Linked DNA regions of Homo sapiens. The protein of the gene in region 1 purifies or fractionates together with the protein of each later gene. This does not show direct contact. Each region holds a gene or a part of one and is shown on either strand. Other genes may lie near its edges.

Region 1 (4,950 bases):
TAAGAAGGAAGACAAAGACCCCTGCTTCCAGTGCATCTTCCAGCCTCCCCCATCCTCCCCTCTATGGAGATGCAGCAGTTCCATGTTCCCCTGGCAAAGCTGTGACAGTGCCGGAAAGGATACGTGCAGATCTGCAGACTCAGAGAGCCTGACTTCTCCACCAGTAGAGCATGGGCACCTGCCTTCCTACACAGCTGAGGGGATGAAGCCCTGCCTTGCCTCACCGCCTCACCTCCTCTCCAATGCTCTGAGCAGACCCAGGCATCCTATGGTCATATGCTGATTCTGGTAACCAGTTTCAAGGATCAGGTTTGAGCTCCAAACTCTGGAATCTGGTATCTCCGCCAGGACCTGTGCTGATTTCTCTGTTGCCCTCACATCCCAACCTGCTCCCTGCTCTTCTCAGCCTTGCTCTGAGCTCTGGGGGACTGGTCTCCACAGACTGCATTACCCAGTCTCCCTTGCTGGCTGCTTCCACTGTTTGTTCAGTGGGAGGCAACAGCAGGCAACCAGAGGGCAGGTGGAGAGAGAGATCAGGTATTTCTTTCCCAATCCCTCCCTGCTTTTCAGCATTGGCTTCCCCATGTTGGGGGCAAAGACAGAGCTTTCACTGGACTCCTATAATGCTATTCCCTCGTTACTATGGTTTGAATATAGTTTGTCCCCAACAAAACTCATGTTGTGGCTTGGTCCCCAAATGTGGTGGTGGGAGGTGGTGCCTTTAAGAGTGAATAGGTTATTAAGATGGATTAATGTCTTTCTTGGGAAAGGTATAGTTCCCATGAGAGTGGGTTGTCATAAAGCGAGGTTTGCCTCTCTTGTTTTGCCCATTTTGCACATGCCCAGTTTTCCTTCTGTTTCTCCATTTGGATGTTTGGATGCAGCATGAGGCCCTCACTAGAAGCAGCTGCTCAATCTTGAACTTCCCAGCTTCCAGAACTGTGAGCTAAATAAACTTCTTTTCGTTATAAATTAGCCAGTTTCAAGTATTCTGTTCTAGCAACAGATAATGGACTATGATACTCCCCTTGACCCTTTAGGAGTAGAGGCTTCCCATTGCTGCTAATCTCTCGGTGCCTCAACATCCCTTATCTGTCCTTTTACTCTGCTCCCACCTCTGTAAGCAGTCCCTTCATTAAGGTCTTGAACCATCTGAGCTAGATTCTCGTCTGCTGGAACCCTGACTGATACAGAAACCAACCCCTTAAGTCCTCTTCTCCTGTCCCTTTCCTTCCCCCAGCCCTGCCCTCTGATAGCTGATGCCCAGACCTCACCATTAATCACAGGCGTGAAGACAGCCATCCCAGCAAAGTTGGGGTCTGAGACAGTCTTGTCCAAGATGAGGCCTCCCACACTATAGAGACATAAAGACAAAATGACGCAAAGACCACTGAAGGGTTCTGCCTTAGTCTCTGGGATGAGAGGTCCAGGCCCACCTATCCTTGGAGATGAAGGGAAGCACCATGGCTCTCAGGAGTTCCTCACCATCCAGTCCTTGCCTCCCTTGACAGGATTAGGTGCTGCTCATAACATTCTGACTGGGCACAGTGACTCCAGAACAAGCTGGTGGTACTGGGTCAGGCAACCACCTCCTGTACCTGCCCTCTAAGTTGGCCGGAGGAGCAGCCTGCAGGACTATCTGCCTCTGAGGACCTCTGTTGTTCTGCCCACTCAGCATTTACTTCCCTTTCTGGTGATAGCACTGGGCTCCTCCACAGGGAACCACCTCTCTCAAGCTCAGTGACTGTGGCTCAGGTGACAATGCCTCAATGATAGCTAGGCTCCAGGTCCATCCAATCAGAGGATTGCAGCCCCAAGGCCACGCTGACTGGTTTGGAGATAATCATGTCACCAGATGAGAAGCAGTGGAACTCTATTCTGGGACTTTGTGGAACTGTTGGGGGAAGAATCTCTCTTCCCACTGGAATTTGTAGGAGTAAGAAAAGCATAAACCTGGGCTGTAGGCCATGACAGAGAAGAGCAGAGCTAAGAGTCACAGAGTACTGGGGCCCTGATCTTAGGTATGTCGCTGAATTCAGCTGTGCCTTTTTGGTTCTCCAGGCCAATACATTCTGCCTTGGAATGAAACCCAGTTCAGATGGTTTCTGTCATTTTCAACAGAAGGACATGTGACTGAAACACTAATGAACACATTTCTAGGGTCTGACCCCCACCCCATCTCTCCAGGGTTTAAAAAGAAGTCTGTGGAAGGGTTGGAGTGGGGTAGGAGTGGATACTCAGGGCCCCAGCCTACCTGCTGATGGCCATGGCAATGATAACAGGCTCCCAGCCCGAGTACAACACCTCCCTTGTGGCTGGACTTCGTCGGGCCAGCACCACCCAGACAGGCAGCAGGGCCACAAAGAAAGCACACACCAGTGGGTAGATGTATCGCCAGTGATCTGAGAGGGCAGAGGTCAGAAGGAGATAAGCACTGTGTTTCCCTACCCTAAGTTTCTCCCTGGCTCAGCCTGAAAATGTCCCAACAGATCAATAGCAAGACTACACTAAATGCCAGTAAACACATTATCCCATTTGATCTTCACTGGCAGCTCAGGAGGTAGGTGGGACAAGCCTTTTCCATTTTATGGATGAGGAAACCAAGGGAGAGAGCTAGCCAGGCACTGAGCCAATTAGGGACAGAGACCAGAGGACAGAGACTCTAGGTCTCTTGATTGGAGCCCAGAAAACACCATCTCCCACCCGCTTCTTCATTTTGCAAGCAGATCTAAGCCTCTGGTTCCTTTCCTTTACCCTTTCCACCTCATCCCTCCAAGAGAAGTAAGAATCTGCAGGACCACACAGGAATATACTTCTGATACTTTTCCCCTGCCCCTGATGCCTGCTTGAATTTGAGATCAGTACTTAGCTTCAAATCTCTAAGATCAGGAATTATTACAACCTGTGTTCAAACCAAATAGTTTAAGAACACAGAAGAAACTCTTGCACATTTGCAAACTACTACCATCTCTCCCAACCCCACCCAGGACTCCAAGAAGCCACACTCTTGGTGGCTCACTCAGTTCCAGGTAGAGTCCCCAGCTGATGCCTGAGAGCAGCGCCAAGGTGATGAGGTCGCCCAGGCTGGCAGCAATGGGTGTGGCCACGTTGTCTGGGTTGATCCCAATCTTGCGAGAGCCAATGATGACTCCAATCATGATCATACCTGGTGAGCAAGTGGGAGGAGGGGCAGGCAGGGTGAGAAGAGATAAAGGAGTCTCAACAAACAAAAAGAGAGAGTGGAAGTGCCAGGTGCAGTGTTCTCTGGGGCGGCACTCCTTACTCCTCTATGCCCTCCCTTTCTTACCCAGTACCAGGGAGGCAATGAAGGCTGTGGCCACGCTGCTAGCACAGAGCAGGAAGGCGTGCGGAATACTGAAGTGGCCATCAGGGATCCAGCCAAAGACGACGGCTGCGATGGACGCCAGGAAGCCCACCACCGTGGCCTGCACCTGGGGACAGGAGTGGTAACTCAGAAAGCCCTGAGAGCAGTGGGCTTCCTAAGCTGAGGTCATAAGCATCTGGGCAGACCTCTTCCTGGCTGGCAGTAGCCCCAGGAGGCAGGCTGGACTGCATGGTCCAGTCCTCCCAGGCTGGAAGGATGTCTTTATTTATTTAGGTTCACACCAGCCACTAGTACTGGGCAGTGCACTCTGCAGGAGCCCAGAACATGTTACTGGCTGAATGAGTGTGCCTCTGGGGATGGGAGTGAGGTTCAACAGAGCCGGAGACTTCCACCCAGAGTCAAGGCCTGGGCCTCAAGGGGGAAGGCTCCCAGTCTGAACCTGTGTGGTCTCATGGGGAGATGGGACAGCAGTGGCACAGGACATCTCAGCACTCCTGAGTCTGCTCATATTGCCAGGATCTGCTGGGACTCAAAGGCACGTGCACCACCAAGAACTGAGAACCAGAATGGGTGATGCTGGGCCCTCCTCATCTTGGGCGTTTTCCTGGGTAACCTAGTTACCTCCTAGAGCTACTCTGGGGGAAGCCAGCTCAGTGGGATACTGGAGATTCACTCAGGAGCCTGCTGGGGCTGACCTAAGCCTTTCAGAGATTCCTGACTAAGGGGAAGCTTAGCCCACCCTCTCTGGTCCCTGCCTTCTTACCTGGATGAGGGCCATGTTCCCAGTGATCATCCGCCAGAGCTCCTTGGGTGTGTCCATGTGTCCAATGTTGGCCTGGGAAAGGGAGGGCAAGGGGCTGGAGCTTCAGGCTGGAAAAGGCCTGAAGCTCCATCCATTAGGCTCCTGCCTAGATCATGAGGCAGTACATGTGGCCTAAGACTCTGAGAGCAGGACCTGACAGTCCCGGAAAGGTGAAGCAGGATCAGGGAAACTGAGGTGAAAGGGAAGGAGCTAAAGCTGGGCTCCTGCAGCTGGGTGGGGGGTTGGAAGGGGGTCCCCTAGGCAGTCGCCTCTCTTCCTCTCAGGACACCAGCTGAGCAGAGGCAAATTCTATCCTTTGCCCTGCTTATCTGGGCAGCCCATTCCTGCATGGGTCAGAACAACCCAGTCCCTGACTCTGAAGCCAGCCTGCGATCCCAGGGAAGGAAAGGTCAGCTGCTGGTGCAGGACTGAGGCTCCAAGAGTATTTGGGAAGGAGTGGGTGGCATGGGCCAGAAGTCGGGTATGGCAAGTCAGGGTGGGTTAACTTGGATGCCACTTCTGTCTGTCACCTTCTCTAGACTCTTGACCCTGCAGGGAGATCCCTGGCCTCCTGAGTTTTATCATCTCCCACCTCCAGCCCAGGGCCCTGTATCTGTTCAGGCCCGGAATCGTCACGGCTCACAACTGTGGGAGGTAGGAATGACGAGCAGCTCCTCTCTGTCTGTTTCCTTAAAGAAGAGCAAGCTGCCATGGGTAAAGGGAATGGGATGGCCGGGGGGCTGGGGGTGCTGGGAGGGCCTGGCTCTGCTCCCGCCCAGCTGCAAAGCAGGGGCTGGAGATC
Region 2 (3,592 bases), on another chromosome or scaffold:
TGGGGATGCAGAGGGAAGACCTGGCTGCGAAGAACTGGCCAATGCTGCCACGTACAAGGATTTAAGACTAGTGCATCCCTAAAGAGCCTCAAGCTTGTAAAAGTTGGATCCACGAAGGCTGGGCACACAGAATTCGGGGTGGTCTACACGGTGTAGACACTTGTGGTCCACACGGTGTAGACACTTGTGGTCCACATCCAGGGGGAGAGGTCAGGCAGACATGAGGACTGCAGAAGATGTCACGATGACGCTGGCCGTGACAGTGAGCTCCCCGGTCTGTGGGTGTGGCTGGACAGATGGGGGTGAGGGCTGGGAAGAAGGACTAATGCCTAGAACTACACCTGGAAATTCAGCCATCCATCCACACAACACACACATACATTAAGGACCTGCTCTGTACTGACCTGGTCCCAAACCCAGAGCTAGAGAGGAATAAATAAGCCACAGTCCCTGTCCCCACAGAGCACATGATCCAGTGCAGAAAGCACTTGGCAGATGCTGGAACATAATGTGAAGAGATCCCACAGAGGATCCACTGGAAGCCACTGTGCCAGGCACGGGGAGGGCCGGGGAGGCTCCACAGAGGAACCAGAAAGCTGTGATGTGGAGGAAGGTCTGCGGGCCAAGTGGGGCCAGGGCACTTCCCAGAGGGAAAGGGGTTCAGGTTTGGGTTGGACCTAATGGACTGAGGCTGCTGAAGACGTGACATCAAGGCGGGAAGAAAGTAAAGCTGCAAAGTACTCCCATGGCCCCTGGGCATTTTCTTTTTAAAGAAACAAACACACGAGCTGCTGTATGCTTAGCAGCTAGCCGGTGGCAGATGTGAGCTGCCATCACTCACGGCTCCAAACTTTGGCCCAGGAGCTGCCATAAAGGCCTGGGCATTTGTACTGAGGTAGAAAGGGAGACACCTGCATTGCAGTGCCCTTTGTAACAGAAGGCCAAGACTGGGTCCACCTGACTCCCTAACCCTGCTGCAGAGAGGGGCTTTCTAGTCCCCACAGGCCGCTGCAAACGGCCATTCCACGCAGCCCCTTCCTGGCAAGAGTGATGGTTGGGCAGGGCAGAGGAGTGATCCCCTGCTGGCTCTGGTTTCAGAGCGGGGCGGTGCTGGGAGCCCATGCGGCGTCAGATTACAGCCTGACTCAGCACATCCTGAGGAGGCCAGGACAGTGAGGTCTGGGATGGAGGTGGGGGGAAGGGCCACCTTGCAAAGGTGCGAAGAGGCAGGTTTCATACATACAGGGTGGATGTAAATGGACACAAACTAGGTCAGTGGTCCCTAACAGTGCCCTTGGAAGAAAGGGAAGCACCCACCTCCCCAGGATATACACGTTCACACTTGCACTTCCAGAGACAAAACTGTCCAACTGTCCACCAAAAGAAGATCCATCCTTGGGACACCTCAGAGGAGCCCCCGGCTGACATGGCCACATGACCTATGGTACCTTCACCCTACAGAACACCATGAAGGAGCCAAAAAGAAATCCGAGGAGCGCCACGTGCAGAAGCAGAAAGAGCTCTGGGGGCGAGGGAGGCGGCAGAGCAGCACGGTGGCATGGGGCACTCGCTCCAGACCAGCCCTCCTGCCCACAGGCCTGGCTCCACAGTAAGCCAGCTAGGTGTCCCTGGGCAAGAAGGTTAACATCTCTGTGCCTCAGCTGCCTCCTCTGTAGGGTGTGGATAGTAAAAGCACCTACCTCACAGGGCATGGCAAATATCTTTCAAGTGCTCAGCCTAGTACCTGAGACACAGTATGGGCTCATCAAATGTCAGTGATGCATGCCACAAGGGGTGACACTTGTGAAAAAAAACAAAATAATACCATGTTCTGTATGAGAGTTTATGGGAATAGAGATGCTTGAGTACACACCCAGAAGACAATGTGGAAAGAAACATGTCGCACTTAAAATGCTGGTTACCTGGGTGGTTAGGAGGTATTATTTTAACTTCTCACCCAGAAAATGAGCACGTATAATGACATAATGAAAATCAGTTTCAAAACAAAGGAGGAAGAGCATAAGAGCTGATGGATATGTCATCCAGTTCCCCTCAGCCCCCCTGGGCCTCAAACCCCCTCCCCCCATAGGCCTGGAACATACTTCTCTGGCTTGGGCCCTTGGGACGGCAGACTGAGCCCAGCTTTACCTGGTGAATGATTCCAGATCCAGGCTTCCAGAAGCCCACGCCATATTTGGCACCTGCAGTTGCCAGGAAATTATAAACTTCCTGGTTGATGTCCTATTGAGACAAATCAATAATTGGGCGTTAGCAACATGGTTTGTGTCCAGGTGACCCTCACCAAGCCCTCCCCACCCCATCAGCCTCCCTTCTGACTCTGAAATACTGGCACTGGAGACAGGCCCTCTCTTAGAGACCTTCTAAAAATAATTCCAAAGAGCTTGGATGTTGGCCCAGTCTCCACTAGCAGTGTCAGAGAGAAGGACAGGGGAGCAGAGATGGAGCCCCAGTTCTGTGACACCTGGCCAGGGTGGTGGGTCTGGAACAAGTCCCTGCCCTGGTCTGGGTCTCAGTTTCCTTATCTGGAGAAGGGACTGGTCTAAATAATTGCCAAGAGTGCCTGTGGCACTCAAGTCCCCAGATGAGGCCAGCAGTGCAGAGGCAGGCCCTGGCCTAGGCGCAGTGGCTGGGTGCAGTGGCTCACGCCTGTAATCCCAACACTTTGGGAGGCTGAGGCAGGCAGATCACTTGAGGTCAGGAGTTCAAGACCAGCCTGGCCAACATGGCGAAACCCTGTCTCTACTAAAAATACAAAAATTAGCCAGGCATGGTAGTGCACACCTGTAATTCCAGTTACTCGGGAGGCTGAGGCACAAGAATTGGTTGAACCTGGGAGACAAGGATGCAATGAGCCGAGATCGTGCCACTGCACTCCAGCCTACAAGACAGAGCGAGACTGTCTCAAAAAATAAAAATAAGAATAAAATAAATAAAAATTAGCTGTGCACCTGCGGTCCCAGCTACTTGCAGGCCGAGGCAGGAAGATCACTTGAGCCCAGGAGTTCAAGGCTGCAATGAGCCGAGATCGCACCACTACACTCCAGCCTGAGTGACAGGGCAAGACCCTGCCTCAAAACAAAACAAAAACCCCAGAGGCTTTTTTTGAAATAACTTGCTGGAGATCCCAGGCTTAGACGACACCTGAGAGAGCCCCCTGGACTGGTGTCTGACTGTCGGAAGTGCTGAATTCTTGGTAATGTGTTTGATGGGCCCAAATGGAAGGCTGTCGAAGGGACCACTGTTCTGAAAAGGAGGTTTCAGCCAAACGAAATGATGACACGGGCTGTAGCCATCCTGCCTATAATCTGAAGGAAGCTTCCTTGAGGGACAGGGAAGGGCCCACTGCACAGCAGATGTGAGGCCAGGGTTTATCTGGAAGACATGGGAGGTCCCTGTGTGGGGTCAGTGAGACTGACCCCAGTAACAAAACGGTGGGATTCTAGTGGACTCTACTGAGTCTCAAAGGAGGAACTAGGAAATGGGACCTGCCAGCCTCCGGCATGGGAGAGCGATGCTTCAGAGAAGGGACCTCAGCCAGTGCCCTCGGACCCTTGATGAGATACACTCAAAC
Region 3 (4,295 bases), on another chromosome or scaffold:
TACTGGTACATTTTGTACTTTGTTTTAGGAAGGTAGGTTATTTACCTATGTCTATCTCAGAAGATAGCAAGTTTTTGACTCTTGGAGGTGTGTAAGCAGACTTGGGAACAACTTGACAAGAGATAACATGAAGAGGGTTGGTTGGATTAGAGAGGCAATTCCCCAAGATGGCCTTAGGACAGGCTGACTCTATGTTATCTGGAGAGTTCTATTTGAAAATAAATAAAATACAGAATCCAGGGACCCCCTCCTTAGAAATTCTCATACAGAATCCAACAGAGTCTGTCAGAATCTGTATATCTGAAAGGCAGCTCAAGTGATTTTGAGGTGCAGCCAAGTTTGGGAACCACTGAAAATATAACCCTCAGCATTCTAGCAGCCCTGAGGTTCCAGGATTGCTTGTGTGAGTACAGGATAAACGCTACTCTGCCTTACATATTAGCTTCAGACCATTCACAGAGATAGATGCCTATTGAAAGAACCACTTCAAACTAACAGCATCTCTCCCCCAAGAACATTTGCTTCATGACTGCTTTCCAAACCCACTCCTAGCCCGGGTGAGCACCCACAGCTTTAATCCTGTTACCTTCACAGTATAGAGTGTGTATGGGTGGAATCCAGTGCCACTGTGCTCTCGGGCTGTAATGGTGCCAGTGATACGAAGGTTCTGGATGATAACTGGACCATCGGGACTGCTTAGGGGCTCAAAGCTGAAGGTGGCTGAGCTGAGAGGACCAGGTGGAGAGGAGGAAAGCAGAACTGGTGGCAGAGTAGGATCAAGGGAGCTCACATCATTGGTGAGATCCTTCTCTAAGCATGACGGCCGTGAGGGGCAGGTCTTTTCTGGCCCCTCCAGCAAAGCTGTAACAGAGGCGGTAACATCTCCTTGTTCTATCTCCTTGTCTGCTGTGTCAATATGGATCTCTGGGCAGGAATTCAGTGTGGAGACCGGCAGGCCTGTCTCTGTTTCTGTCCCTGGACCCTCCTCAGCCTCTGCTCCTTCAGATGCCTCACCATCTTTGGGTTCCAGAGCCTGGGAACTCTCTAGGGCACACAGGGCATCCTGAATCCTGTCAGAGAGAAAGCTGCCTGGAGTCATGAGCATGATGGTTTCTTTGCCCAGTTCAGACAGCGGAGACTCCAGCTCTGAGTCTTCACATAAGAACAGGGGACCTCGAACATTTGGCTGTAGGAAATGAGATGAGTTGTTTCCTACTTTTCTTTCTTCACACATCCCACCCAAATCTCCCTCTACAGCTTCGTGGCCTTCTTCAACCTCTGGAGAGGGGCCTGCAGAACCCTCTGGCTCACTGTAACTTAGGAATACTGGGGCTGCTACTGGAGAAGCTCTCCCTTCTGGAAGCTGCTCTACCTCAGCAATCAGTGGCAGAGATGTCGGCACTGAGGGCTGTTCGGGGGCACTGGCTGGGCAGGGTGCTGGATCTCTGGCCTTGGAAAAGATACCCACGAGTACAAGGTGGATCCAGTCAGGATCTGACAGCCTGCTGATCAGTGGTAAGATTACATTGCATGTGATGAGTTCGACCACTACATGGCGTCCGGTACGAGTCTCCAAGTGGGGCTTGGGCACCAGCCCTTGAAGCAACAAATTCACAACGCCACGCGTATAGGTGACTTCAGCACTGGGGCTGTGCACAGCAGGATGTGGGGCAGTCGCCCGGCAGTAAGCCTCCCAGAGGTGGGAAGGCTCAACTGGACCATTCTTCCCTGCAGTGGCCTCCTTTGCCTGAATGTAGCTCTGCAGGTGACAACCGCAGAGAGTCAGAACACTCTGGGCAACAGCATGACTGTCCATCACGCTCATCCTTCTCCGAAGCTCCTGGACCAACCCTTTCATGGCTGCCTCCATTTCTTCCTCAAAGGCTGGCTCCTGGCTCACGGAACGGTACCAAGATAACACAAAATCTCGAATAATCATCTGGATGGTGCGGTTGATCTCCCGTTCCAGCTGCCTTTCTGCCTCAGGGCATGGAGGACAGGTGGCCAACGGGATGAAGCGTTCCAGATGCAGTCGACCTGAAGCCACTCCAGCGAGGCTGGAGCCCAGCCATCCTCCCAGCACCACTAGCAATGCCGACAGAAGGCACAGCAGCCACACGTTGACCAGAAGGTGTATGACCAGGAGCCAGCCAAGCAAGACCCCCACAGCCATCAGCTTCCGGCTACTCAACAGGTTATTGAGGTGACAGCTCGATCCAGCTGGAGTTTCCTGGAACGGTGGCACTGTTTCTGTCTTCATGGCTGAACGGACAAGGTGGCTTCCCCAGATGACAGCCCTCAAGATTTTACTTCAGAGTTAGGGAAGGGGGGCATGAACTGTGTCTCAGATATGGGGCGATCTGGGTGCTGTTCAGGGAACCGGGGCTCCAGGCCCTCAAAGTCCTACAGGCACTGCAAAGCGACAGCTGCAGCTCCGCGTCTCCCCATGGCTACCACTAACAGAGCCCTCCAACTCGCCCCTTCCAGCTGAGGTGTGGCTTTGGAGGAAAACTCTGTGGCCTTCACACTGCCCCAGGCGGAAGGCCTCTTCGGGGCCTCGGGGCGGGCGCTGCAAGGCCCTGGGGCCCACGGACACTTACACACGCAGCGGGCAGCGGCCGGCGAAGACTGGGTCACACGCCGCCGGGAACCGCGCGCCCACACTCAGCCCCGACCTGAAGTGGACTCATCGCGGTCCTCTCCGGGAGCCTCGGCCCTCTGCCGCCGTAAACCTGGGCGACTGCGCTCCGCAGCCGGGCCTGTGTGAAGGCTGACCGCCGGCCGGCCGCCGGCGACAGCTTCCGGGTCGACGTCGACGGGAGCGAGGCATGCTGGGAGAGCGTCCGCGCGCGCCCCGAGGAGCGGCGCTGCCCGGCGCCCTCTGCTGGCGAGGAGCCGCCCTGACGGCCCTGCGCGAGGTAGTCTCTGAGCCTGAGCGTGAGCCTGAGCGCGCACGGGGCGCGTGCTCGCCAAGAGCTGGCGCAGATTTCCGAAGTGCCACGAAACAGCCGCCGCAGCAATCACCGCTAAGACCCAGACTTCCAGGCGCTTTAAAACGCGTCCTAGTTCTGGTTATTAAATGAAGCCTGTCCTTTACTGCTTAGGCACGCTGTCAATAATCCGGTTTATTTTAATTTCATGGAGGCGAAGTTTCATTGGCCTGATGTGTCTTAACATTTATCCGGTTTCCCCTAGAGCCGGTACCCCGCGTCCCCAGCACAAAGACCCTCATTTGTTGTCAGGAATTGCAGAATATAAGGCATGAAACGATACAGAGATAGATTTATGTTGTACATTTCATATACTGTATCACAAAATCAAATTTGTGATTGAGGGTTATTTGCTGGTGGCATTACACAAACAATCAAATATTTTGAGCATCTGCTGTCTTCAATGTGAGAGGCAGCGTGGACGAATAGAAGCAGACCTTGTCCTCCAGGACCTCCTGCTAACTGGGGATGCCAGCGCTTTGAACGCGATTGGCTATCTAGTAATGCCAGTCAGCGTGCGATATAGTAAAATACAAAATCTTATAGGAATTCAGGGGAAGGAGAGATCACTGTGGGTTGCAATGGTTAAGGAGAAGCTCACAGAAAAGGTGCCTTTCTGCTGAGTCTTCAAGGATGAGGGTTTCTATTTCCCTCTATCTCTTCTCGCCTTATCCTCCCCAAAAACATAGAAAAGGAAAGCAGAGATAGAGGTGTCCTTTCAGATAATCCTGTAATATATTTGCTTTGGAATATGCTCTATGTTGGATTGTTTTTGGTTTTAGCAAATTAGACTTCACTTGTCTACACAGGAACCTATAGGAAGACAAAATACCGGAAGCACTGACCAGGTGTCAAAAGTGTTAGTGTCAGTTTTGCGTGAAGCCAGCTTCCATGTCCACCTTGGGCCCTAGGAGCTGTGCCCGCAGGGTGGGTCTCCTTTCCATTTAGGCATAGGATTCGCATCGTTTGCACAGAGCTGCTCATGGTTGCCCTTCGTCCACCTTCTCTGTGCTGTGAGCAGTCTTTCATCATCATGGACTACTCCCTAGATGTTTAAAGGAATCTTCAAACAAATCCCAACCCAAAACTCTGCCAACAAGAAGTGCGTTGCAGCTTCCTGTCTCGTCCATTGCTGCTGTTGGGGCAGAGACTTCCTTTGAATACGAAAGAAGCCATCATTTAGATGTGACCCGTAGTTTACGATTCATCACTTCTAAAGCAAATGGTTTGATTTAGGATCAGTGTCCACTAAGCAGACTGGGCACTCCCGTGAGATGGCAGAATGTGAATCCACGGTTTCACGGT
Region 4 (2,469 bases), on another chromosome or scaffold:
CCCCGTCTCTACTAAAAATACAGAAATTAAGCAAGCATGGTGGCACATGCCTGTGGTCCCAGCTACTCAGGAGGCTGAGGTGGGAGGCTTGCTTGAACACAGGAGGGGGAGGCTGCAGTGAGCTGAGATCATGCCACTGCACTCAAGCATGGGCGACGGAGCGAGGCTGTCTCAAAAAGAAAAAACAAAAAGCAGACTTTACTTACTCTAAAGAGGATATAATGGAGTTCAGAATGTGACTTTCCAATCAGGGGAGCACCAAGCAAGAGCTGCAGGGGGCAACGTGAATGGAGGGCTTGGCCAGGAGGGCCTCCCACCACCACCTCAGCTCACCAGGCTGACGTGAAAACCCCAAGGAGATGCGTCATTTTTTGACCAACCGTGTAAAGTTGTGACTGGATGTCCTAAAACAAACTGCCACACAAGGACTAGGGCAGTGAGAGACATTTCAAGTTAAATGCTAAAGTTTCCTCAGATAAGGTCTTCCACATCACACAAGAAGCTATTGCACATCACTCCTTTATTATACTGATATGGAAAAAGGATTTAGTACAGTTATGCTCAGATGAACACTGGACCCATGTGGCAGGGTCAAGCAACTAGAACATGATTCAGAAATCAGTGAAAGATACACTTGGACAGGACCAAGAGGCATTTCACTGCCATGAAACAAGGCAGGAAGGGATTCTAATACACACACCAGGAAGCACTCCTGCCCCTCAGAGGTCAAGGAGCTGATCCTATATTGGTATGAGGAATGGCTTATTTTCTGATGACCACATGTGGGACTATTTCAACCGCCACAAGAAACCCCAGAAGGGTTATTGTTTTGTATTATATATACTATACTTTTTTAATAAAAGTAAATTAACACATAACGAAATTCAGGATTGATCCCAACCTAGAGCCAGATCCTCTGGGGTCAGGGAGGAAACAGTTGTCACATCACCACGCAGGTTACATTCGTCTTCCACTGGAATGACTAGAGCCCCCAGGCAGTAGGCAGTGACCTGACTGCAGAAGAGCAGAGGACAGACTCCGCTCATGGGGACAGACAGGCTCTGTTGCTTCTCCTCACTGGTCATGGCTTAGCATGGTTCCTCCCCAAAGTCCTTAGTAAACAAAGCACTCGCAAAAACCCAAGTCACTACTTTTAAACTCTGTTGGATAAGGGGAGCTTTTCCATAGCTTAGACTGAGAACCTGTGCTCTAGAACTGCTATTCTGACTAGATTGTATGAAGGGAGTGGGTGCAGGCGACAAAATGGCTAAAATGAAAATGGGAGCCACTGGTCCCCGTCTGCAGCTACAACTCAAGATGTCTACAGATGTGGTCAGTGTGACATGTGCAGGTGGGAGGGGCAGAGGGACAAGACGGGCAGGGAGGGTGCTCCTGGGGACAGTATCCTCCCCGCCGGCCTTCACTTCTTGGCCTTGCCCTGGGCAGCCACAGCTTCCATGGCTTTGCGCACCGTCTCTTCATCCCCCAGAAACTGCATGGGCTTGATAGGCTTCAAGTTCTTGTCCAATTCATAGACAATGGGAATACCAGTCGGCAGGTTCAGCTCCATGATAGCCTCTTCAGAGAGACCTGAAAACATCCACCATCATCAGCCACACAAGACATAAATCCACATCACCCCTCCAGGTTTACTTTGTCCTCCAGGTGATAAAGGACTTTGACAGAAATTAAAATAAGACACCCTTTCTGATCTTTATAGTAGTTCTGAACCCAGGGAATGGCCCCCACCATACTTATTTCTCAGCCATTAAACTGAAAAGCAAGAAAAGGTATACAAGATAGACCACCAACAAACTACAGCAAGGTATATGGCCAGATATCTCTACCAAAGTGGGATCTAGAAGCCCACAGTGAAGCAAGACTACACATCTCAAATACCCTGTACAGCCCATCCAACCAAAAATCAGCACACGTGGGCCTCTAGGCCCTCGGGGATGAAGATGCAAATTGAGATTCATGTGTAAAGTTGTGCCTGGTTGTGACTAAGGAGAATTTTTTCTTTTATATATATTTGTTTTCCTTTTTTTTTTTTTTAAGAGACAAGGTCTTACTCTCTCACCCAGGCTAGAATGTAGTGGCACAATCATACCTCACTATAACCTCAAACTGCTGGGCTCAAGCGATCTCCCGCCTCAGCCTCCTGAGTAGCTGGGACTACAGATGAGCATCACCACATCAAGCTAATTTTTCATTTTTCTTTTGTACAGACAAGGTCTTGCTTTGTTGCTCAGGCTGGTTTTGAACTCCTGGCCTCCCAAGGTGCTGATAGTACAGGCATGAACCACTGTGCTTGGCCTTTTAAAATTTTGTAGAGATGCAGTCTTACTATGTTGCCCAGGCTGTCTCAAACTCCTGGCCTCAAGTGGTCCTCCTGCCTTGGCCTCCCAAAATGTTGCAATTACAGGCATGAGCCACTGTGCTTGGCAAGCTAAGGAGGATTTTCACTAG

The links. Proteins that work in one complex are often made in the same cells at the same time.
Region 2: the proteins of SLC41A1 (region 1) and ACO2 purify together in Homo sapiens (affinity purification with mass spectrometry; one large-scale study listed by BioGRID and IntAct). This does not show direct contact.
Region 3: the proteins of SLC41A1 (region 1) and SNX19 purify together in Homo sapiens (affinity purification with mass spectrometry; one large-scale study listed by BioGRID and IntAct). This does not show direct contact.
Region 4: the proteins of SLC41A1 (region 1) and PGAM1 purify together in Homo sapiens (affinity purification with mass spectrometry; one large-scale study listed by BioGRID and IntAct). This does not show direct contact.

Annotation. Positions count from the first base shown.
Region 1 is NC_000001.11:205,795,650-205,800,599, forward strand, and holds part of SLC41A1 (solute carrier family 41 member 1), read right to left. Parts: intron 4,182-4,950; coding exon 4,110-4,181; intron 3,453-4,109; coding exon 3,308-3,452; intron 3,167-3,307; coding exon 3,020-3,166; intron 2,403-3,019; coding exon 2,255-2,402; intron 1,355-2,254; coding exon 1,275-1,354; intron 1-1,274. UniProt on the Homo sapiens protein: Na(+)/Mg(2+) ion exchanger that acts as a predominant Mg(2+) efflux system at the plasma membrane.
Region 2 is NC_000022.11:41,510,525-41,514,116, reverse strand, and holds part of ACO2 (aconitate hydratase, mitochondrial precursor), read right to left. Parts: intron 2,242-3,592; coding exon 2,149-2,241; intron 1-2,148. UniProt on the Homo sapiens protein: Catalyzes the isomerization of citrate to isocitrate via cis-aconitate.
Region 3 is NC_000011.10:130,913,680-130,917,974, forward strand, and holds the start of SNX19 (sorting nexin-19), read right to left. Parts: upstream 2,801-4,295; 5' UTR 2,261-2,800; coding exon 587-2,260; intron 1-586. UniProt on the Homo sapiens protein: Plays a role in intracellular vesicle trafficking and exocytosis. May play a role in maintaining insulin-containing dense core vesicles in pancreatic beta-cells and in preventing their degradation. May play a role in insulin secretion.
Region 4 is NC_000010.11:97,431,476-97,433,944, reverse strand, and holds the end of PGAM1 (phosphoglycerate mutase 1), read right to left. Parts: intron 1,591-2,469; coding exon 1,421-1,590; 3' UTR 501-1,420; downstream 1-500. UniProt on the Homo sapiens protein: Catalyzes the interconversion of 2-phosphoglycerate and 3-phosphoglyceratea crucial step in glycolysis, by using 2,3-bisphosphoglycerate. Also catalyzes the interconversion of (2R)-2,3-bisphosphoglycerate and (2R)-3-phospho-glyceroyl phosphate.